7 linked regions of the Homo sapiens genome follow. The protein of the gene in region 1 interacts with the protein of each later gene in a pairwise test. Each region holds a gene or a part of one and is shown in the gene's direction. Other genes may lie near its edges.

Evidence for each region.
Region 2: the proteins of U2AF1 (region 1) and FRA10AC1 interact in a two-hybrid assay, tested with the Homo sapiens proteins (one large-scale study listed by BioGRID).
Region 3: the proteins of U2AF1 (region 1) and DHX38 interact in a two-hybrid assay, tested with the Homo sapiens proteins (one large-scale study listed by BioGRID).
Region 4: the proteins of U2AF1 (region 1) and NKAP interact in a two-hybrid assay, tested with the Homo sapiens proteins (one large-scale study listed by BioGRID).
Region 5: the proteins of U2AF1 (region 1) and ALG13 interact in a two-hybrid assay, tested with the Homo sapiens proteins (one large-scale study listed by BioGRID).
Region 6: the proteins of U2AF1 (region 1) and CHERP interact in a two-hybrid assay, tested with the Homo sapiens proteins (one large-scale study listed by BioGRID).
Region 7: the proteins of U2AF1 (region 1) and CPEB2 interact in a two-hybrid assay, tested with the Homo sapiens proteins (one large-scale study listed by BioGRID).

The regions. Positions count from the first base shown.
Region 1 is NC_000021.9:43,092,456-43,095,013, reverse strand, and holds the end of U2AF1 (splicing factor U2AF 35 kDa subunit), read left to right. Parts: intron 1-225; coding exon 226-359; intron 360-450; coding exon 451-543; intron 544-1,764; coding exon 1,765-1,912; 3' UTR 1,913-2,058; downstream 2,059-2,558. UniProt on the Homo sapiens protein: Plays a critical role in both constitutive and enhancer-dependent splicing by mediating protein-protein interactions and protein-RNA interactions required for accurate 3'-splice site selection. Recruits U2 snRNP to the branch point.
Region 2 is NC_000010.11:93,692,593-93,696,092, reverse strand, and holds part of FRA10AC1 (protein FRA10AC1), read left to right. Parts: intron 1-1,155; coding exon 1,156-1,232; intron 1,233-3,363; coding exon 3,364-3,447; intron 3,448-3,500. UniProt on the Homo sapiens protein: May be involved in pre-mRNA splicing.
Region 3 is NC_000016.10:72,107,347-72,110,846, forward strand, and holds part of DHX38 (pre-mRNA-splicing factor ATP-dependent RNA helicase PRP16), read left to right. Parts: coding exon 1-202; intron 203-298; coding exon 299-453; intron 454-880; coding exon 881-1,036; intron 1,037-1,126; coding exon 1,127-1,261; intron 1,262-1,453; coding exon 1,454-1,579; intron 1,580-2,068; coding exon 2,069-2,164; intron 2,165-3,500. UniProt on the Homo sapiens protein: Probable ATP-binding RNA helicase. Involved in pre-mRNA splicing as component of the spliceosome.
Region 4 is NC_000023.11:119,926,752-119,930,251, reverse strand, and holds part of NKAP (NF-kappa-B-activating protein), read left to right. Parts: intron 1-86; coding exon 87-236; intron 237-3,500. UniProt on the Homo sapiens protein: Acts as a transcriptional repressor. Plays a role as a transcriptional corepressor of the Notch-mediated signaling required for T-cell development. Also involved in the TNF and IL-1 induced NF-kappa-B activation.
Region 5 is NC_000023.11:111,687,670-111,691,169, forward strand, and holds part of ALG13 (UDP-N-acetylglucosamine transferase subunit ALG13), read left to right. Parts: intron 1-217; coding exon of another isoform or gene 218-332; exon of another isoform or gene 333-2,503; intron 2,504-3,500. UniProt on the Homo sapiens protein: Catalytic subunit of the UDP-N-acetylglucosamine transferase complex that operates in the biosynthetic pathway of dolichol-linked oligosaccharides, the glycan precursors employed in protein asparagine (N)-glycosylation.
Region 6 is NC_000019.10:16,528,938-16,532,437, reverse strand, and holds part of CHERP (calcium homeostasis endoplasmic reticulum protein), read left to right. Parts: intron 1-1,557; coding exon 1,558-1,669; intron 1,670-1,763; coding exon 1,764-1,853; intron 1,854-2,537; coding exon 2,538-2,790; intron 2,791-3,500. UniProt on the Homo sapiens protein: Involved in calcium homeostasis, growth and proliferation.
Region 7 is NC_000004.12:15,064,981-15,068,480, forward strand, and holds part of CPEB2 (cytoplasmic polyadenylation element-binding protein 2), read left to right. Parts: intron 1-1,172; coding exon 1,173-1,400; 3' UTR 1,401-3,500. UniProt on the Homo sapiens protein: May play a role in translational regulation of stored mRNAs in transcriptionally inactive haploid spermatids. Binds to poly(U) RNA oligomers. Required for cell cycle progression, specifically for the transition from metaphase to anaphase.

The DNA.
Region 1 (2,558 bases):
TCCTTTAACCAGTTGAATTTGAAAAATGAAGGCAACATTTGGCAAAATCTTGGACTATCTTGAAGTTAATCTCATTGAAAATAAAGGATTTTTCAATTATCCTGTAATACTATTCCACCTTACTATACCTGAGTGTGTATATCTCTCTCTGATATACTTGGATTGGTAATTGAGAAAGTCTTATTAAAGCGTGGATGGCAAGCACTTCTGTTTTTGTCTTTTCAGTTTCGCCGTGAGGAAGATGCGGAAAAGGCTGTGATTGACTTGAATAACCGTTGGTTTAATGGACAGCCGATCCACGCCGAGCTGTCACCCGTGACGGACTTCAGAGAAGCCTGCTGCCGTCAGTATGAGATGGGGTGAGTGAGGAGTGGCCAGTGACGTGACTGAGCACAGTTCGGGGCCGTGTGCACACGAGGTAGTAAATGTCTCCTTCCAACCCACCCACAGAGAATGCACACGAGGCGGCTTCTGCAACTTCATGCATTTGAAGCCCATTTCCAGAGAGCTGCGGCGGGAGCTGTATGGCCGCCGTCGCAAGAAGTGAGTATTCCTGTGCCCGTTGTTAAGCTCAGTGGCTTCTTTCTCCCCTCACAACCCTCCCCCTTCCAAAAAAAAAATTTTGGCATAGGTGTCGTTTCTGTTTTTTAAAAGGCAGTGCTTAGAACATAGTACATATTTTTAAATATCCAAATGTCCTCTTTGGAGAAGAATATTCACCTGCACACAGGTAACTTCATTATCCAACTTCTCAAGTAGAGATCAGATCTTAGTAATCAAGCAAGAGGGCGGTTAGCTGGGCAGCCGCGGACATGAGGCTCGTGGTGAAAGTGGGCATGCAGTTTATTCTCCCAGATATTACGAAGAAGAAGAATAGATGTTGTAACCTCCTTTAGATCAGGGATGGCTTCCCTGGGACACATTGGAAGAAGAATTGTCTTGGGTCACAAATAAAATACACTAATGATAGCTGATAACTTTTTTTTTAATTGCAAAAAAAATCTCATAATGTTTTAAGCAAGTTGATGAATTTGTGTTGGGCTGCAGGTTGGACAAGCTTTTGCTTTACATATTTCACATGTCCACTGGGGTTTCTTTTGGTTTTGCTTGTTGGTTTTAGGGCATTTCATTATGTCTTGGGATCGCTGGCATCCTCCCTTCGGGACACTGGCAGAATCAGGCCCAGCGGTCACATCTCTCTGATCCTACATTTAAATGTACGACAGGTCACAGAGCAGAGAAAATCAAGACGTCAGAATCGAACCGATTGAGTTCTGAGTCTGGAGAGGTTCTCATCCCTCTTCTGTTAAACATGGACTAGTAAATAGATGGGTGGCGATTGTTTTATTGTCAGCATTCAAGAAGCATAAGAGAAAAACAGGCCTGCTCTCCCCAGCCCAAAAACCTGATGGACACAGTAGCTATGAGCGCCTGAAGCGTGGGGTCAGTGAGGGTTGAAGATGGTATGTGTCCAGCTCATTTTGATTATGATTTCCTGTGACCATTTGAGTTGGTTCTAGAAGAAGACAGAAGATGCAAGGTATTACACCTGTTCACTTCTAAGTTGCACATTTTTTTCTCCTGAAACTTTTCACACCTGAAATCAGGGTGTGTCTCAGTCACGGCGTGCAGTCTCTTCAGCAGTGTTTTTCCTTATCAGTGCCGTTGGCTTGAGGAGCTGCGCGTGTTGAGAGAGTGGGTGTGGTTCTGTGCTGCGTGCCGTGGTTTGGATGGCACGGTTTTCTTTATTTTCCTTGGTTGCAGGCATAGATCAAGATCCCGATCCCGGGAGCGTCGTTCTCGGTCTAGAGACCGTGGTCGTGGCGGTGGCGGTGGCGGTGGTGGAGGTGGCGGCGGACGGGAGCGTGACAGGAGGCGGTCGAGAGATCGTGAAAGATCTGGGCGATTCTGAGCCATGCCATTTTTACCTTATGTCTGCTAGAAAGTGTTGTAGTTGATTGACCAAACCAGTTCATAAGGGGAATTTTTTTTAAAAAACAACAAAAAAAAAAACATACAAAGATGGGTTTCTGAATAAAATTTGTAGTGATAACAGTATTCTTGGTGTAACTTATTTCTTGTGGAAGTTCTTTAAATTTCTTTTTCTTTATAAATCTGCTAGTCATCTTGGAGGTAAAGATTAATATCCATCCACCACTTTGAGTATAAATGAAATAATATTTTTTATCTTAGGGCATGAAATAAAACACATACCAGGTGAGATCTACATGCTAAATAATCCGGAATTTCTCGAGGCTGTCATGGAAAGCCTTTTGGGGTTTCTTTTCTAACTGGTTAGTGAAGAAGTGCTTAGCTATAATCAGTAGACACGCTGTAGACTGCACTGATGTTGGGAAGAAGGCTGATCTGTGGTGAGACACAGTGGGTGGGCCCGACCCATGTTACCTTCTCGTTCCTGCGAGTTTGTGTCAAGAACCCCATGTGTTCGTGGGAGGGAGCGTGGATGCTCACACGGCACACTGAGGGCCAGTAGTCCGTGTCCGTGTTTCCTTATGCCAATGGCTGTGGGAGACACAGAAGCCTGCGGTGCAGATCCG
Region 2 (3,500 bases), on another chromosome or scaffold:
AGTATGAGGAATAGGGAGAAGTACATCTTTGCCTACTCCATCTTCCCGGAAGCAAAAGTTACACCCACCACCTGTTCTTGTACATAAAATTATATTGGAATACAGCCATGCTTCATTTATATGTTGTCTTTGGCTGCTTTCATGCTAAAATGGCAGAACTGAGCATTTGCAACAGAGACCATATGGCTTGCAAAGCCTGAAATATTTACCATCTGGCCGTTTGCAGAAAATGTTTGCTGACCCCAGCTCTAATAGGTTACATGACTTGCCATGGTCATGTGACCAGTTAGTGGTAGATCAAGAGCTAGAATCCAGATCTCCAGGTATTTGGTTTTTCTGTCTCTCTCTTTTTTTTTTTTCCTGAAATATTAACTGGTTTGTTACAATATGGAAATACCATAATCTGATTAAATTGTCTGTTAGTACACATTATGATCAGTTAAATCACTATACATGTTTAATAGTCACAGAGAATATTGTAGAAGGTGAGGTTAGCTATTATGTGCATGTTTGGCTCTAGAGAGAGTGCTGTTGAGCTTTTTAAAACAAAAAGTAAAATGCTCATATATTTTGTTACAATGCTTTGAAAAAACATGGCATTTTATTCTTTGAATTTAAAAGACTATAAAAATTGATTTTTTATATTTGCTTTTTTGAAAGTTTAATGTTGGGATTTAATTATAAATTATAAATATAATTATAAAAGTTGCATCTTCTATTTAGAGGCTTTATCATTACTAAAATAGATAAATTATATTTTATGATAATGAAAGATAAATTCTCTACTTTTAGAAACTATAATTTTTAAATTTTTCATATTGTGATTATTAGAATGAGTGGTGGTAGGAGGCTATATGCAGTTCAGCAATAGAATAAGAAGCTCTATTTCTCCCCAGATGGAGGTATATTTTTATCACAAGAGTAGTATATGCTTGAAAAATAGTCAAAAGAAAGCCTGTACTTTACAATCTTCACTTTCAACAATTTAATATATACCCTTCTAGATTTTCTGAATGTGTAAGCATGTATAGTGTGTGAATATTTTTAAAAAGCTAAATAGACTCATATTGTGCTTTTTTTTACCACCAATCAGCAATATATTATGACACCAAACAGCTCCTAAGAGAATAAAATCCTTAATTTTTTGCATTTCAGTATCAAAGACATACAAAGTTCGTAAATGACTATATTTTATACTATGGTGGCAAAAAAGAAGACTTCAAGCGTTTGGGGTAAGTATCAGGAAGTTTACATAGAAGGGAATGTGGGTTATGGGAAACTTTAAAGACCCACAGCTACTGTGCCTTCTGATTCTGTCATTCTTCCCTGCTTTCTATTCCGGTGTGCCTTTTTTTTTTTTTTTTTTTTTTTTTTTTTTTAAGATGGAGTCTCACTCTGTCGCCCAGGCTGGAGAACAGTGGCTTGATCTCGGCTCACTGCAACCTGTGCCGCTGTGGTTCAAGCGATTCTCCTACCTCAGGCTCCCGAGTAGCTGGGATTACAGGCTCCTGCCACCATGCCTGGCTAATTTTTGTATTTTTAGTAGAGACGGGGTTTCACCATCTTGGCCAGGCTGGTCTTGAACTCGTGACCTTGTGATCCACCTGTCTTGGCCTCCCAAACTGCTGGGATTACAGGCGTGAGCCACTGCACCTGGCCCCAGTTTCTTTTTTATATTATAAGGTAGAGATACCATCCACAGCTCCTGAGTAGCTCTTCATGAATCCCATTTTTTTGGACAGGCCTCAGGTAGACTCTTTACCTGCTGAGCCGGGCACAACCCTGGTGATAAAAGAATATCTGAAGAATACTCATGTGTCTTCTTGGCAAAGATCTTTGAAATAAGGAAATTTTTATACCTTGATGTTTGGGATTGCTTTTTAAAAGATAGGTAAACAAGAACTCTCAGTCTAGCATTTCTTGCACATCAAAGTCCTTCCCATGTTTAAGGCTCTTCTATCAGAACTTGTTTTTTGTTTTGTTTTGTTTTTGTTTTTTTAAATTTTTATTTTTATTTCAATAGTTTTTGAGGTACAGGTGGTTTTTGGTTGCCTGGATAAGTTCTTTAGTGGTGATTTCTGAGATTTTAGTGCACCCATCACCCAAGCACTGTATGCTATACCTAAAATGTAGTCTTTTATCCCTCACCTCCCTTCTGGCCTTCCCCCACATTGAGTCCCTAAAGTCCATTATATCAGTCTTTTGCCTTTGCATCCTCATAGCTTAGCTCCCACATATAAATGAGAACATATGATATTTGATTTTCCATTCCTGAGTTACTTCACTTAGAATAATGGCCTCCAGCTCCATCCAAGTTGCTGCAAAAAGACATCATTTCATTCCTTTCTATGGCTGAGTAGTATTCCATGGTATATATAAATGGTGTGTGTATATATATATGGTATATATATATATATATGGTGTATATATATATGGTATATATATATGGTGTGTATATATATGGTGTGTATATATATATGGTGTGTATATATATGGTGTGTATATATATATGGTGTGTATATATATATGGTGTATGTATGTGTGTATATATATATATATATGGTGTATATATATATATATGGTGTATATATATATATATATATATATATACACACACACCACATTTTCTTTATCCACTCATTGGTTGATGGGCACTTTGGTCAGTTCCATAGCTTTGCAATTGCGAATTGTGCTGCTATAGTGTGTGTGTGTCTTAGAACTTCTTAGTTTTATGTGAGGTTTTTTTTTTCCCTCTAACAATTTTCTGAGTTGGTAGGACTCTGAGAAAATTTAGTACCACCTCATTTACCCCCAATTTATCTCACCTATCAATTTATCCTATATCTCCCAACAATCACTTTTTTTTTTCCTTTTTTTTTTTACCCCCAGACTGTTAGCATTTTATTTTGAAAGGTCAATCCCTTTGGCTTTCTTCCTCCTTTACTCAGTCTTCTACCTAGGAAACTAGTAAAATGAGATACGGAAAACTTTTCATATTTTTTAAAATTAAATCTCAGCAGAGTGGTTGGTTAGAATGAAACTTATTTTCATTCACTTTATTCATTTAGTGTTTAGTCAGGTTTCTCATTCTAGCTTTGGTAACTTAGCACCATTTGTATAATTGAAACCAATGCTACAGACAGATTCCTTATCCATTTAACTTGCTTCTGTAGTAGTATTTTTATAAGTGCCTTTTGAAAATACTGAAATATTTTTATAAATATGTGAACAAATTTATACTCACCAAAAAACTATCTTCATGTATTATATTTTTAATAAAATTTTCCAAAACTCACAGAGCTATTTAACCTAAATTTGACTACTTTTGTTTTTGTATTAAATTGAAAAAGTTCTGTTTTCCAGGGAAAATGACAAGACAGACTTGGATGTTATACGAGAAAATCATAGATTCCTATGGAATGAGGAGGACGAAATGGACATGACTTGGTAATTAGCCATCAGAGGCGTAATGCATCAAATGCTTTAGTCCTGTTTCTCCT
Region 3 (3,500 bases), on another chromosome or scaffold:
ACCCAGAGCGCCTACAAGAATGAGCTCCTGACCACCACAGTGCCCGAGATCCAGAGGACTAACCTGGCCAACGTGGTGCTGCTGCTCAAGTCCCTCGGGGTGCAGGACCTGCTGCAGTTCCACTTCATGGACCCGCCCCCGGAGGACAACATGCTCAACTCTATGTATCAGCTCTGGATCCTCGGGGCCCTGGACAACACAGGTGAGGCGGCCCCGGGAGCCTCATGGGTGCTGGCGCTTGACTTCCTTCTTTCCTCTACTGTCCCGTCAAATATCCGGGTTTGCTCATCTCTCCTAGGTGGTCTGACCTCTACCGGGCGGCTGATGGTGGAGTTCCCGCTGGACCCTGCCCTGTCCAAGATGCTCATCGTGTCCTGTGACATGGGCTGCAGCTCCGAGATCCTGCTCATCGTTTCCATGCTCTCGGTCCCAGCCATCTTCTACAGGCCCAAGGTGGGGCAGCGGCTGGCTCCCCTCTCCCCGGAGGGCTCGAGGAAGTGTTGGGGAGGGGAATGGCTTCTCTCTGTATTACTGAAATGGAACAGAGGGCAGAATCAGAGTTTCTGAAGAATGATTTTGCTGTTCTCGGTTAAGCAGGTTGGGGTAGGGGAAAGGAAGGGCTGGGCCAGTGGTTCTCAGGGAATGCTTTGGAAATTTGCAAGAGCATTTTTTATCTTCTAGTATGGTTGCTCTTGAGCCCTCATGTTTTAGAGTAGACCTTTTTAAAAATTATTTTAATTTTTCTCAAATTGTCAGGGCAACCTATTGACATGTTTGAAGTTCTATGTGTGGGTAGGTGGTAGTGTTAGAACCTCTGGGATGTGCTCAGTGGGCCTGGACCCCCCTGTACTTAGAGTGAAGGTTCTTTTTCCCTTCCTAGGGTCGAGAGGAGGAGAGTGATCAAATCCGGGAGAAGTTCGCTGTTCCTGAGAGCGATCATTTGACCTACCTGAATGTTTACCTGCAGTGGAAGAACAATAATTACTCCACCATCTGGTGTAACGATCATTTCATCCATGCTAAGGCCATGCGGAAGGTAGAGTGGTGGATGAGCAGGATGTTGGGATGAGGGGAGGGTCGAGAGGAAAGGAGGGCTCCCTCCTGGTGCCTCCGTCTCCTGCCCTAGGTCCGGGAGGTGCGAGCTCAACTCAAGGACATCATGGTGCAGCAGCGGATGAGCCTGGCCTCGTGTGGCACTGACTGGGACATCGTCAGGAAGTGCATCTGTGCTGCCTATTTCCACCAAGCAGCCAAGCTCAAGGTGAACCCAGGAGCCCAGTGAGCCCCTCCCAGCCTGATACCTGTATAAGGGCAAAGTTCTTCCTTTGTCCTGGTGTGGTTCTGCAGATCTGGGCTTCCGCCAAAGGCTGTGTCAAGAGTGTTAAGGGATGGGGTCGCTGCCCAAATGGGTGTTGTTTTCCTGATGTGGCTGCCTGTTGTGTCTCCTCCCTAGGGAATCGGGGAGTACGTGAACATCCGCACAGGGATGCCCTGCCACTTGCACCCCACCAGCTCCCTTTTTGGAATGGGCTACACCCCAGATTACATAGTGTATCACGAGTTGGTCATGACCACCAAGGTGAGTCTTTTCCAAGGCACTTGCATAATGCAGGCCCCCTGTCTGGCCAGGCTTTGAAACCCTTCACTGCGTTCTGGCATGAGCTTTTAGCCTGGGAGCCTTGAGGCCACATGCATTGTTTTGCGGGGCATGTGAGGTTGGTTTTCATTTGGGGACTTGGGGAAGCTCTGCACAGGGTTGACCTCTAGACTGCATTGACCTCAGCTGCATGGGCACGATTGTTCCCCACTTGCTGCTTGGGATGAGCAACCCCTCTTGGTGTCATTAGAAGGATTTTCGGAGGGGTTGGGCCTTTTCTTTTAGATACTGGGGGCATTTTCTCAAGTGTGGAGGAGTTTGGATGGGAGTATCTGGGGTTTTTCCTTTCCTTTTTTCAGCCTTGCAGGGCCAGGGATTGGGCCCTTCCCATGTGGCTCCTAATTGTGGAACCACTCTGGGAGGGACATTGGCCCTCCTGTGACCCTCGCCTCCCTGCCCTTCTGCCCGCAGGAGTATATGCAGTGTGTGACCGCTGTGGACGGGGAGTGGCTGGCGGAGCTGGGCCCCATGTTCTATAGCGTGAAACAGGCGGGCAAGTCACGGCAGGTGAGGATTCTGTGCTCTTCGCAGGGGTGCTGTTTGCCTGTGGGGTCGGTGTTCCCTCCGCTTGGTATTGAAGACTTGCGGTCATCCAACCCACTTACTTCTCTCTGCAAACATAAAGGCTGTGATCCAGCAGGCTGGGTCTGTCTGATTCCCCACCACCCACTCCAGTTGTTTGGTAGGCTGAGCCTTTAAAAACAAAACCAAAAAACTCATTATTGAAAAGTCCAAATATTCATGAAAGTGGGAAAAACAGTACAACAGGCCACCATGAATTCGTTGCCTTGCCTCTATAATTGTCAACGTTTGTTCAATTTCACTATTCCTACCCCACTCCACACACATCCATTTTTTTTTTCTGGAATATTTTAAAGCTTATCTCATACATTATTCATCCATAAATACTTGAGTATGTGTCTCTGACTAAAAGGACTTAAAATTTTAAATATAACCTCTGTGCCGTTATCACTCATAAAAAAATGAATACTTAATGTCACCTAAGTCTCCAGTCCGCATTTGGATTTCTCCATTTATCTCAAAGATAACTTCTTATGATCGATTTGCTTGAATTAGGATCCAGGCATTGCAACTGCTTATGTGTGTTAACTGTTTCATTCTAGAACAGGCTCCACCCCACGCTTTTTTTCATGACATTGATTTATTGGAGCAGCCAGGTCATTTGTCCTGTCGAATAGTCCATATGATGTATTTGCCTCATTGCTTGCTCACAGCGGTGTTTAACCTGTGCCTGTGTTTCGTGCACTTGCTGTAAGCTGGCGATGAGTCCAACCGCTCAATTAGATCCCGGCTGAGCTGCGTGTGGCAGAGATGCCTGCATGTGGCACTGTGAACCTCCTCTTAGATGCCTTCAGGAGGCATGTGAGGTCTGGTGGCCCCACCTTTGCTGATGGGAGGATGGATGAGGGGCCCCAGTGGTGGCAGCCTGCCTCTTCCCTGATAGGTTTCCACTGCTCCTCCATCTTGAGGTTTTAGCGTCTGTTGATGGCCATTGCCTAGATCCATATTTAGGGTTGCAAAATGGTGCTGGGCTTTGGCTTACCCCTTTTCGTAGCATAATTCTCCCCATACCAGGCTCCCTTGCATCTTATGCCTGTCTCTTCCAGCCAGCAGGTAATCACATCTTCCCTGTTTTTCTGTACTTCCTAGCATAGTTGTGAACTTGATTTTTCAAAAAAGAAGGAAATGTAAGTACTTCCTGGACTGAGGGATGACTGAGTTAGGACTGATTGTCCAGTGTCTTGAGTCAGTGAAAAAAGCAGGCCTCAGCTGCAGAAGAGAAGGCGGCTTTGGTACTGGGGCAGGCAGCCATGTGGAGCAC
Region 4 (3,500 bases), on another chromosome or scaffold:
GGATTTTTGGTGCTCTCTTTAGATTATAAGCTTTTAATATTAAGATGATTTAATGGACCTTTTCTGAATTCTGAATTACTTTGTAGCTATGGCCATGCTCTGTTACCTGGTGAAGGTGCAGCTATGGCTGAATATGTAAAAGCTGGAAAACGTATCCCACGAAGAGGTGAAATTGGCTTGACAAGTGAAGAAATTGCATCATTTGAATGCTCAGGTTATGTAATGAGTGGTAGCAGGTATGTTGTTGGCATTAAGCTCAGTTTCCATGATTAGATCTTTTTCTTCTTTTTTACTACCAGAATTATATTTTGGTAATTGATTTTCATTAAGTGACTGTTTCTTATGAAAAGTAGAGTATAAATATTGGTTTGATATTAGTGTTGTTAGTATAACATGGTTTTCTGCAATTCCAAGTATATATGCAACTCAGCCTCAAACTCAGCTATATCTCTGACTTCAAAGAATCAATCTTCCTAATGTCCTTTCCTAGTTGGTATTTGCTTACAGATATTTTATCCACTGGAGGATATAGTTAAATTCAGCTATTTATCACTGCCCCATGAGGAATGTGGCAGTTAGGAAAATATTTTCACAAGACAGTGTTTCCTGGTTACAAGTTTGTCTTCAGTTTTTTATGGACCCAGATTTCTGAGACTGAATAACAGAAAAAGATGATAAAAGACATTGGTCAGCTGAGAATATATCCTGGCTAATAAATAAATGAATAAATAAATAAATTTTAAAAAGACACTGGATTCAGCATGGGAAATGAATATAAAATTAGGAAAGAGAAAAGTTCCAGGAAGAACCAGGAGAATGAGCAAATAGGGCAGCAGTACTTAGATCAAATTGAATTTTGGATTCTTTAAAACTTGATAAACTTTTTTTTTAAGTAGATAACTATTTTTAAATGACACTGAAGGCAAATATTTGCAGAAACCCTGAAGCACCTCCAGAATCTTGTAATACTGAGGACCAATATTTGAAGCATTGCATTGGAGGACCCACACAGTAAGGCAAGAAAAAGAAATTAGAGACACAAGGATTGGAAAGGAAGGCTGGGCACGGTGGCTCATGCCTGTAATCCCAGCACTTTGGGAGGCCAAGGCAGGCAGATCACTTGAGTCCAGGAGTTCAAGACTAGCCTGGGCAACATGGCGAAACCCTTCTCTACTAAAAACACAAAAATTAGCCAGACGTGGTGGTACACACCTGTAATCCCAGCTACTCAGGAGGCTGAAGCAGGAGAATCGCATGAACCCAGGAGGCGGAGGTTGCAATGAGCCAAGATCACACCACTGCATGCCAGCCTGGAGAGCAAAACTCAGCCTGAAAAAACAGTAATAATAATAATAAGGATTGGAAAGGGCGATATAACAATGTCATTTTTTAGCCAGGCGTGGTGGCTCACGCCTGTAATCCCAGCACTTTGGGAGGCATAGTTGGGTGGATCACCTGAGGTCAGGAGTTCAAGACCAGCCTGGCCAACATGGTGAAACCCTGTCTTTACCAAAAATACAAAAATTAGCTGGGCATGGTGGCGGACACCTGTAGTCCCAGCTCCTCAGGAGGCTGAGGCAGGAGAATCACCTGAATCCAGGAGGAGGTTACAGTGAGCCAAGATCGTGCCATTGCACTCCAGCCTGGGTGACAAGAGTGAAACTCCGTCTTAAAAAAAAAATGTCATTTTTTTGTGAATGACATGGTGAATGATTTGATTGTTTACATAGAAAATCCCAAAGAATCTCCAGATAAATTATAAATGAGAGGAGGGTTTAACAACTGGTTGGATATAAGGTTAGTACACAAAAATCCATTGCATTTCTATTTACCAGCAACAGACAACTAGAAAATGTAACTAAATAAGAAGAAAACATTTGTAATAGTATCAGAGAATATGAAGGACTTCAGAATAAATCTTAACAAAAGATGCCCAGGGCTCTGTGAGGAAAACTATAAAACATTATTAAGAGATTGTGTATTCAATACAGTTCCAATAAAAATGAACTGCATTTCTATTTACTAACAACAGAAACCTAGAACCTTGAACGTTTATAACAGTGTCAGAATATGAGAGACTTAAGAATAAATCTTAACAAAAGATGCCCAAGGTTCTATGGGGAAAAATGTAAGACATTAAGAGTCCATATCTTCAATATAGTTCCAATCAAAATCACAACACAGTTGTTTATGAGACTTATTAAGCTGGTTCTAAAATTTATATATTACACTAAAAGGACAAGAATAGCCAGGTCACTTCTGAAGAAGAAGAGCAAGAAGGTAAGATTAAAGAAAACTTAAATAGCTGGAGAGATACCAGGTTCACGGATAGGAAGGCAATATTGTAAAGTTGTCATTTCTTCCCAAATTGATCTTTATATTCAATACAGTCCCAATCAAAATCAGAACACAGTTTTTCATGAAACTTAATAAGCCAGTTCTAAAATTTATATACTAGACTAAAAGGACAAGAATAGCCAAGTCACTCCTGAAAAAGAAGAGCAGGAAGGTAAGATTTCCCCTACAAATAGGAGGACTTATTATGAAGCTTACAGCACTTTAGAAAGCATAGGAGAACAACTGAATTGTTCAGTGGAATAAAATTCAGGCCGGGCGTGGTGGCTCATGCCTGTAATCCCAGCACTTTGGGAGGCTGAGGCGGGTGGATCACCTGAGGTCAGGAGTTCAAGACCAGCCTGGCCAACATGGTGAAACCCCATCTCTACCAAAAATACAAAAATTAGCTGGGCGTGGTGGCTAGTGCCTGTAGTCCCAGCTACTTGGGAGGCTGAGGCAGGAGAATCGCTTGAACCCATGAGGTGGAGGTTGTAGTGAGCTGAGACCTCGCCATTGTACTCTAGTCTGGGCAACAAGAGCAAAACACTATCTCAAAAAAAAATAAAATAAAATTCAGAGCCCAAAGATAACCATACACGTATGGAACTTCAGTGTATGAAAGAGATAGCATGTCAGATCAATGGGGAAAGAAAGAACTATTCAGTACATGAAATAGGAGGCTGAGGCAGGAGAATCGGTTGAACCTGGGAGGCGGAGGTTGCAATAAGCCGAGATTATGCCACTGCACTCCAGCCTGGGTGACAGAGGGAGACTTGGAAGTTAAATCCACTGATAAAAACTGCTGTTCAATTACAGATTTAGACTTGGTTCTTTTTTTTTTTTTTTTTTTTTTGAGACCTAGTTTCACTCTTGTCTCCCAGGCTGGAGTACAGTGGCGCAATCTCAGCTCACTGCAACCTCCACCTCCTGGGTTCAAATGATTCTCCTGCCTCAGCCTCCCAAGTAGCTGGGATTACGGGTGCCCACCACCACACCCAGCTAATTTTTGTATTTTTAGCAGAGACGAGGTTTCACCACGTTGGCCAGGCTGGTCTTAAACTCCTGACCTCAGGTGACCTGCCTGCCTCAGCCTCCAAAAGTGCTGAGATTACAGGCGTGAGCCACCATGCCCAGCCTAGACTTGGTTCTTTTGGTTTTATGGT
Region 5 (3,500 bases), on another chromosome or scaffold:
AAGGTATCTGCTGAATTTATATTGACATTTTATAGTACTCTTTGTATTGCTTTAATAATCCTAGTATGTATACTTATTAAAATATATAAAAATTCACATGTGCAGTTTTTAGAAGTACCACTATATTCTTGGAAGTTAGATTCAGTCATCAGTGGGCAGCAGATGAAGTATGGAATTTTCTCCCATGTTACCTAATATTTTTCTTCTTTTGTTTTAGCACGCTTCCTGGGCTGTTACAGTCAATGGACTTATCAACACTGAAATGTTATCCTCCTGGCCAGCCAGAAAAATTTTCTGCATTTTTGGATAAAGTTGTTGGATTACAAAAATAAACACTAAACTCTCAACACTTTAAAAGCAACCCCCAAATTCAACCTATGTAATGTGATTAAATCAAATTAAATACATAATATATATTTACAAAATAATATAATTAATAAACTTCCTACATCTATAGAATGTATAGGAAATTTTATGTTGTGCACATTTGCATTGGGTCCAAATCCTAATTGCAGTTTAGTGAAATTACTAGATTTTTTTCTAATCTTCAGTATGTAGTGAGCATTCACAGGTTTTCTCCTAGAATCTCAAGTGGAATTGGAATCATAAAAATGAATGAGATTTGAAAACTTTCACAAAGATTATAAATGTAGTTAGTTTGATACTCCTTAGAATAAAAAAATGAAACAGTAACAACTTTTATGTAAAAAAATTTTACATAAGAGTTAGCATCTTTAGCTTTATAATCTAAGGAACCAAATTTAAAAAATGATGGATTATGCTCTGTGAAATGAAAAGTTCAATCATTGCCTAAAAAAGATGATCAAGTTAGTTGATCTCTTGTACTTGGAAAAGCTACTTTTTTCCTAAAGAACAGAGTGGAGTGGATATATTCACTTTTTTTTTCTAAAACATACAAAGTGATAAAATAATCGTGCCTAATGTCAAAACTTTACTGGTTTGAGAAGAATAATCAAAAAGGACTTATACCAATAGGACTTACTATTGTTTTTTAAGGATCTCCTCTCACAGTGGTAATGAAACATTAACTGTAACAGAAATTTACAATTTATGTGCTTATAAAATTAGTTTTATGAATGAACAATAAACTGATGCATATAATGGCTTAAATATATGGTTTTAAAATTGACTTAACTTGAGCAAGATACATTATGAAGTTCTTTCTGATTAGAGTGTGTGGTCTCAAGACCTTTACAGTAGATTATCCTTAAGTGTCCATAGCTCTCTGGTACAATGTTTAGATATAGTTTATCTATCAAAATAGAACATTCACTATAAAGACCTCTCTTCCATTCCAATCATATTATCCCAACATGCTAAATGTTCCAAACATTTTATTTGGAATGCATTTTATCATGTTTTTATAGGTTTATTTTTCTGATTGTGTTTTATTTAGGCTAATATTAAAAAAATGCTTACTAGTGGTAGAAGGTGGTGACAAAGAAATACTCTGGGTAGCAGGAGGAAGCCAACTTGGATTAAAATTTTGCTGAGAATAATCTAAAAAGTGAGTAATCTGGTTGAGAATTCACAGCACCATAATCATAATTGTATATCAATGTTATGTTTTAGGAAAGGTCCTATTCAAATCCAGGGAGAGAATCTTTAGTGTTTTCTGGGCCCTCATAAATACGTTTTTCTCATTTGAGAAAATTGTGACTTTATGTTGGTCACTTAGTTTTTATAGTTTATGATGAAGAATTAAAGAGAAACAAATGAAAGGCAAGGTCTACTCAAATATCAGACAACTAAAAGGCTATACAGCCCCTAAATCCTTTGCTATCTACTTCCCCAGAATAATGCATAACCTAAATTCCATTATTTCATTTAGCAGAGGTTTAAGCCGTTGTTGTCAATTGTGTGCAGTAACGCCTCTGACTTCCCTTTTGTGGAATTTTGTATCGATTTTGGATTTTTAAGTCAAAGGAGACTTTAAAATCATTTTGATTTGGCACGGATTCTTGAGATTATCTAGTCCAATTCCATCATATTCAGATTTTACCATTTGCTTAAAGTATAGCTTTTGGCAGAACTGCCCCTAGGAGCAGCTCCTTGATTCCCAGTCCCCTGCTCTTTCTACCCTGCATAATATATGTTGTAAGCTTTTTGTTTCTTTATAGTTGTTTGCCTAGTGTTCATTTTAGTTACTCGAATTCCTTGCAAGGTAGGTTTTGTTTGTTTATTTATGGAAGTTATTTAGTAGGAATTTCACACTTAACTGGGTTTTCCTTTGGCGTATGACAACCTTACCTAGGACTTAGAAATCTGTGATTTCTGAGTTTTTGGAATTTAGGAAAATGCTCTGGGTAGGATTGATAGTAGATTGAATAAATTAAGACTTTAAGACAGAATTGTAGACTTTTGGAGTTGGGAGATAATTTAAAGAATATTTTAAACCACCAGTTTTACAGATGAGGAAACATGCTAAATTAATCACCACATTTACATCTTATTAGTCCTTATTAAAGAATGGTAACCAAAAGTCTGTTTGAAATGTTTGCTCTATTTGTTTGGTTTCATTACATGACAGAGCTGCAGGTTCTTGATATTAATGAGTAAGTGGAATGCAGTTTATTTAGCAGTGTTCTATTAGAGGTACTGAAATTTTCAGGGATAAGGAAATGAAAGAGAGTTTAGCATTGGGAAATTTGCACCATGGATAGATTAAGAGGTAGACAGTTAATAGAACATTTACGGGTTGGAGTAGATGAAAAGAGATGTGATGTTTTGGGATGACCTTGGGAATTAAGGATTTTAGATACTTATAATTTGGGAGGAAAGAAAGCTCAAAGGATTTGTTGGTAAGATAGTATAACCAATGAATTTGACATAGGGTTCTGGAACATTTAAAAGTAGTCATTATCTGCAAGTACCATCAAGTATCTGATTTTGGACACCTTAGACCTCTACTTTTTAATTTTAATTTTTTTTTTTTTGTATTTTAGTAGGGACGGGGTTTCACCGTGTTGCCCAGGCTGGTCGTGAACTCCTGAGCTCAGGCAATCCGCCCGCCTCGGCCTCCCAAAGTGCTGGTTTTACAGGCGTGAGCCACTGCACCCGGCTCTACTTTGTATTCTTTTAAAGGCAAGTCATATATAGGCACAAAAGAGTACAAAAAGGTTGTTTGCCACTTTAATATTTAGTTTGAGGAAGTTTTTCAAGACTAAGTAATGACTAGCAGTAATATAAATATTCTTCCTGGCCCTTTATTGTGGTATAAGCACGTAATTCCTCTGATTTGTTCATAAATGTAAAATTTGTGGAGATGACCAAAACACTTCATATAGTCTGAGAAATGACACATGGACAGATCATTTGAAATTAATTTTGGGGAAACATTTGGAAAGGGTCATCATGATAGCCATGTGGTGATCAATTTTCTGCTGTACATGTAATACCATTTATTTATTTATTTATTTATTTATTTTGAGACCAAGTCTCGCTCTGTCACCCAGACTGGAGTGCAATGGCGTGATCTC
Region 6 (3,500 bases), on another chromosome or scaffold:
GGCTTCTGTCTCCAGGACTGCGAGGTCTAGGTGTCCTGTGCACCTTCGCTGCATGCCCTGTCCTCTCCCCTAGACCCCGGCCTCACCTGTCACATTGCTGTCTCCTGGGGGCCACTGTCCCCTGCACTCCTTCCTCTCATGGGGCAGCTTCTTGGCGTCTCCTTGTTGCCTTCTCAGCCACGGCCTCCTTGGCCTCTGTGTCTGTCTCCTGCCCTCGTCACTGATTTGCACGCACACACACGCGGTCACCTGACTTTGCTCAGCCATCAGGACCCTCCTTTGGGATCCCCTTCTCCAGCCCTGACCCATCTCTCAGGCTTCAACAGAGCCACATCTGCCGACCCTCTGTCCCCACCCAGCCCTCACCCTTCCCACTGTTGCTGTCTCCACCCTCCCCAAGGTTGGGTGGGTATTTCCTTCTACAGGGTCACTGGGGCCCTTCTCACAAAAATTAGCAAAAAAGAAAAAAAAAACAATAGAACCCCAGGCCAAAGGCCCGCACGTGCGGGAGGAGACAAGCATTGCTACTGAGCCTAGCGGGCAGCAGTCCTGGCCTGGCGCCTCGTGTGCCTCTACAGTGGGCCAGGCTGCCAGCACCCATCTCGCCCCATCTATCACATGCAGCACTGCCTGAGTCCCTCTTGCCTCCCCACCTCAGTCCCTGTTTCTCTCCTGCTGGGAAGTGAGTTGCGGCTCGGCACCAGCTCTGCCCTTCTGCTCCTCCTCATGCCTCCATTTCTCCCTGCCTCTGAGTCGGGTGCCTTGCACGGATGCACAGTTTCCCGCATTCTCCAGCCACGCGCCTCTCTAGCTCTACTCTGTCCGAAGCCAAGTGCTGCTCGCCCAGCCCAGGCCCTTGCTCCCCTGAGCCCCCTGCGGCAAGCTGAGGGCTGAGGGGCTTCCAGCTGCTCCCCTCCTGTCTTGCGTCCCTCCCCAGGGGCAGCCATCTCCCTGCGCAGCGGCAGGGGCCTCCCAGGCCAGGTATGCACAGTGTCCTGTGCAGCACTGCACAGCAGCCCTGAGAGGACATGGGCCCGGCGCCTCCCCCCGCTGGGCATCCGGTCACTCTTCTAAAGTGTTCTAGGTTCCTGAGGGACTGGGCACCCTCCCTCCTTCTCCCAAGAGGCCTGGCCTGGGCCGAGGTTTCCTTGTGCATAGTGAGTGACAAGGACAAGACCCCCACTCCGCAGCAGTCCCATCCCGCCCATCATACACAGGCAGGGGCTCCCGCCGGCCCATATCCCTTCACCCGCAGCGCCACCCAAGAGGGAAGGAGGGAAGGTTATTTCCTATCAAGGGGACTGGACCAAAAGGCCTTGCTCAGAACGGCCCCAGGCCACGTTCTCTCCCTCCCCTGCTTGCTGTTTTTCCATCTGTCCCTTCCTCGAGCCCAGGCACCAGCACAGGTCTCGTGGGAGCCCAGCCATCGCCCTGACCGGGTTGGGGACCCGATTCCCGAGAAGGCAGAGGGCGCTGAGGCTGGAGCCGCGATGGTAACGGGCGCGTGGCCGGGTCCCGCCCCAGGGCCCTGACGCGCGGAAAGTCTCTCCCTCACAGCCAGCGCAAGCAGGCCCGGGAGCTGCTGGCCGCCCTGCAGAAGGTCGTGGTGCCCATCTACTGCACCAGCTTCTTGGCCGTGGAGGAAGACAAGCAGCAGAAGATCGCCCGGGTGCGTGGGCCCCGGGCCGGGGGTTGGGCAAGACCGGGACACACAGGCCTTTCCCCTCCCCACTGACCCGGCCTCTCTCTCCTCCCACCGCCAGCTCCTGCAGCTCTGGGAGAAAAACGGCTACTTCGATGACTCCATCATTCAGCAGCTACAGAGCCCAGCCCTGGGGCTTGGTCAGTACCAGGTGAGTGTCCCTGCCCACCCACACCTCACCCTAGAGCTGGGGCGGGTTCCCCAGGAGGGTTTGGGAGTGTGGGGACAGCAGCTGCCACCCCAGCAGCCAGAGAGCCCATGTCCCCTGCCTGTGCTAGGAGTAGCCAGTGTGTGTTGACCAGAGAGTCCCAGGTGACATTTCCCAGGCCTTAGGTGTGTCTCCCTGACTTTCCTGGAACACTAGAACCAGGCGGCCTTTCGGAGTCATTGCACATGGCCCATTTGCTCTGGTGGTCAGGCATGTTCCGGTGTGGTGGAAGCATGAGGAAGCCCAGACGTGGCTTAGGCTGTGGCAGCCCCTCTTGCTGAGAGCCACATGGCGAGTGGGAGGCAGAGCCCATGAGCGTGTCCCAGAATGTTGGTGGGCAGTGTTCGCTGAGCAGCCACGAAGCGGCCAGGACACGGCTGTCGTTGCTCGTTCTGTTATCAGGGAGTCGTAAAACACGCTGCAGCGAACATCCTCATCCCCAAATCTCTGGCCAGATCCCAGCGCACACTGATTGCCCAGACTGTGTTGGCTGTTTCACGTGACGGTTCCCTGTCCACCTGCCCCAGGTCCCCCAGGCTCTGCTGCTTTCCAGGCGTTTGTCCTCTGGCGCCAGGCAGCGAGCCCCAAGGCCGCATACTGAGCAGCGGGTGCTCTTCTCTCTCTCAGGCCACCCTCATCAACGAGTACTCCTCAGTGGTCCAGCCGGTGCAGCTGGCCTTCCAGCAGCAGATCCAGACCCTCAAGACGCAGCACGAGGAGTTTGTCACCAGCCTGGCCCAGCAGCAGCAGCAGCAGCAACAGCAGCAGCAGCAGCTCCAGATGCCGCAGATGGAGGCTGAAGTCAAGGCCACGCCTCCACCGCCTGCTCCACCCCCGGCCCCAGCACCTGCCCCTGCCATCCCGCCCACCACCCAGCCTGGTACGGGGCTCCCTCAGCTCAGCCTGCCCCCAGGAAACAGCCCCCAGAGGCTGGGCACCGAGTGTAGTCAGAAAGCAGTCTGCCACCCTCAGACTCAGTTCTTGTTCCCTCGTCCCAGGCCTGCTCCTAGGCCCAGGTTTTCATCCATTTACAAGCACGAGCCAGGTGATCCTAGAGTAAAACTACAACCATCCCATTCCTGAACAGCAGAAGATCTGTTTCCTGTTCCCAGAGAAAAGAAATAGAGGAAAGGTACCCAGATCATTCCCCAAGACTAGGGTAACTATTACATCAGGCAGGAAGGACAATGCACAGACTGAAAATATAATTGGCTAGGCATGGTGGCTTACGCTTGTAATCCCAGCACTTTGGGAGGCCAAGATGGGCAGATCGCTTGAGCCCAGGAGTTTGAGATTAGCCTGGGCAACATGGTGAAACCCCGTCTCTACTAAAAATAGAAAAATGGTGCTCACCTGTCGTCCCAGCTACTTGGGGGCTGAGGTGGGAGGATCACTTGAGCCCATGAGATTGAGGCTGCAGTGAGCTGCATTTACACCACTGCACTCCAGCCTGGGTAACAAAGCGAGACCCTGTCTCAGAAAATACAATCTAGTGTCACTTCTGAAAAAGACACGGAAATACTGAAGGAAATCTTAGCAGAATCTAGCAAAGGATTTTGTTTTTGATTTTTTTTTGAGATGGAGTCTTGC
Region 7 (3,500 bases), on another chromosome or scaffold:
AGATACAAACAAGCAATTCAGAAAAGCCAAGTGTCGAATATACATAAAATATATTTATCCTAATCCTAATCAATGAAATATAAACAACAATGTAATTCCATTACCTGTCTATCAAATGAACATCCTACAGTTCTTGTAATCAACTTTTAGGTTGTTTCTAGTTTGTTGTTGTTCTTACAAATAATATTGCGGAAAATATCCTTATATTCATTTTCTGCACTCATGCAAGTATTTCAGTAGAATACATTCAGAATACAAACTGTTGGGTCATTACTTTTTACTATAGGCAACCTTTACTTTATGTCAATCCAGTCCTTCAGAACACTCAGTGTTCTGTTGTCTCCTAAGGAACGGCTGAGCTGTTATGCTGTCTGGCACTTTTCAGCCAAACAACAGTAAAAACCTTCCATTCATAAAGTTATCACAAGCAGGAAAGCAAGGCTATTGCAGCTAATAGTAGCTAATACTAATTTATAGAATATTTTACCATGTGCCGAGCACTGTCTTATGCTTTTACATTCACAATTTAAGCCTCACAACTCTGACAGGATCTGTTATTCCCACTTGACAGATGTGGAAACTGAGGTGGAGAAGTTTATCATTCAGAGCTGACTCCAGTCTGAAGTGTTCTGCCAAGTCAGACCTTCACAACGGGACTTGTGCTTTATATCTTATAAATTTACAGAAGTCTAGGCATGCCCTTTGTAAGATTCTCCACAGTTCTGGCTTGTCTGTGCCAGTTATTTCCAAGCAGAGTGTGACTCGCACCTGCAGTGGAGAGGCGCCGCCTTAATCAGTGGCTGTTCGGGTTCTGCCATCTCACAGGTGATACTGGAATGAGGGGAAAAGGTGTGGAAACTGTCTTCCATGACTACTTGATATCTCTTTTGTTTTTCACTCATAATCTCCCCTAACTCTGAAAATACCAGCACACAGGTGTTTCAAAGATGTTATTCAAGAAAGGTGAGAGTGGAATGTTTTGCAAATCAGATTTTTATAGATTTTTAAAGTGTTTTAACCTACTACATTGTAAAGCTCCTTCCTTGAGAAACTGCCCATTTCCTCAGCTTTTAATGCTGGTCCTTTTTTTCTGCTGTAGAACATTTTAAGTTATTACAGAATTTGATTTCTGAAGCAGACCCTAATGAGACTTAACTTTCTTTTTTTTCAAGGTGGAGGTAAAGCCATATGTGCTAGATGACCAGATGTGTGATGAATGCCAGGGCGCACGCTGTGGTGGAAAATTTGCTCCCTTTTTTTGTGCCAATGTCACTTGCCTGCAGTATTACTGTGAGTTTTGTTGGGCAAATATCCACTCTCGTGCTGGACGTGAGTTCCATAAGCCATTGGTAAAGGAAGGTGCTGATCGCCCACGTCAGATCCACTTCCGCTGGAACTAAGAATAGCAAACTGGCCTCTGTTTAACAAGGAAAGAAAGGGTGCATGTGGCTTACTGTGTCTGAAGATACTGACATGCAGAAGAAATAAGTGCATTCTTCTGCTTTTCACCCCAGCTATCAATACATGCATCTTTATCAGCAGCCAAAACACTACAAGCCTCTTGTTTTTCACCAAAACCCTACATCTCAGGCTTACTAATTTTTGTGATATTTTCATGTTCAAATAAAATGTTTTTTTGTATTTTCTCCAAGTTATTTTTATATGTAAAGTTAAAATTAGATATGAGAATGTTTTGCGTAGGGGCAACACAGTCTGCTGCTATATAGTGGGGGAAGCGTGCACTTATTTCTAAACATGGGTTTTTAACTTCAAGATCTGCCCCAGTAATTTACCAAAGGTAGCAAAATAATAGTGAAGATGGAATATGTCTGCTACAAATGCTTATTTTTATTGTTGCTATTTTCAGTGTATACATAAACTAAAAATTAGGGTTGATTTTTTTGCTCTCCATTTTGACTTGCAAGAAATAATACCTCAAGATAATCTGATTTATTAGCTATTTTTAAACATTTTTAATCACAAGCTGTATTAGCTTTGCTGCTATATAGGTGTTATGTGTAAATGCCACCTATTAATACGGGACTGAAAACGTTAGAGACACACTGCATTGCAGATAAAATGCAGGCAGCACAATATGGCCTAAACTGCCATAGTTTTAGAATGTGAAAAAAATGCATGTTTACTTACCTGTATACACCATATGCATGCACTAGAATTATTAACTAACGAGGTGAGGTATTGCAAATGTTCAAAAAAGCTCTCTTGAATCTAGGTAGCATGAACAAATTATAAAATTTGTTTAAAAAAGCAAACTTGCATGCATTATTGTGACTTCAAGTTTAAAAAATCGTCTTACATGTGTACAATATGCAAATTAGTTTTAGATTAGAGAGTGCAGCCATTTTGTGATCTGGTCAGTAGTGGAATTCGATTTTATGCAGACTGGATGTAATATTTGTAATCCCTGTGCAATTTTGTGACGTGCGGTTCTAATTCATGTGCAGTGATATAGTATAGATAAAAGAATGAGTAAAAGAAAATACAAGAATTCTAAAGAAAGTTGGTTTTAGCCCCTTTGATAGTCCATGGTTAAGACATCCTTTATAAACCAAAGATGGCCAGCACACTGCTAACCAGTCACCAAATGTAAGACCCATAAGAAACCCATATTTAAAAATCTGAATTTTTTAGAAGAATGCAAAACTTTAGTAAACCCTAAGTAAAGTCAAAATGGAGAAGGGGAAATATACAGATGGCTAGTTGCATAAAATTAAATTTTACCTTTATAAGACAATGGTGAAATCTGGCTTGAACTTGCTTATGTGTTTAACCTATAAATATTGGGGTCTTCTGTCTAAACTGGGGTCACTGTTGCATGGAACATTGTTCTTAATAGTTGAGAATTGCTTTTTTGAAAATTTTCATGAAGGAATTTTGGTAATGACTTTGCTTGCAGGTTTTTTGGGGTGTTTTGAGAAAGTGGCATGGAAACATGCAGTAGTTAATGAGTTTCTCTTGGTACTGAACACTATTAGAATATCATTAGTGATATTTTTTCTCTTTAGAGCATTTTTAATGCAACTAGCCCCTATATTTTAATGTAAGAGTTACTCTGCAATCTAAGCAAAGCACCCAACAATGGTAAATGTTTTTTAAAAATGCAGAACTAAGATTTTTGACTCTAAAGAGAGAAAATTACAAGGGTGTTGCCTTATAGCAAACCCTTGGGACAATCCTTCATGTGAGCAAAGTGTTGATCTTAATATTGGTTGTCTGTGGTGTGCTTTTTTGTACTGTAAAAATATGTGGTTCATGTCTAACTCTGCTGTTTTATTGTGGTTGTGGTTCAAGTTTTTAATGTTTAAAGTTGATGCTGTTTTCAGAAGAGCTTTTTACTAATTTATTTGTCAGTGTTCCCTATTTGTTACTTAACCATGATCCTCCAGATTTTTTGGAGTATTCTTTTCTAACCTTAACCCTGCCAAACCTTGATCCATTTTGACATTTGTTATGCACTATTTTTATATCTCTGTGAGAGA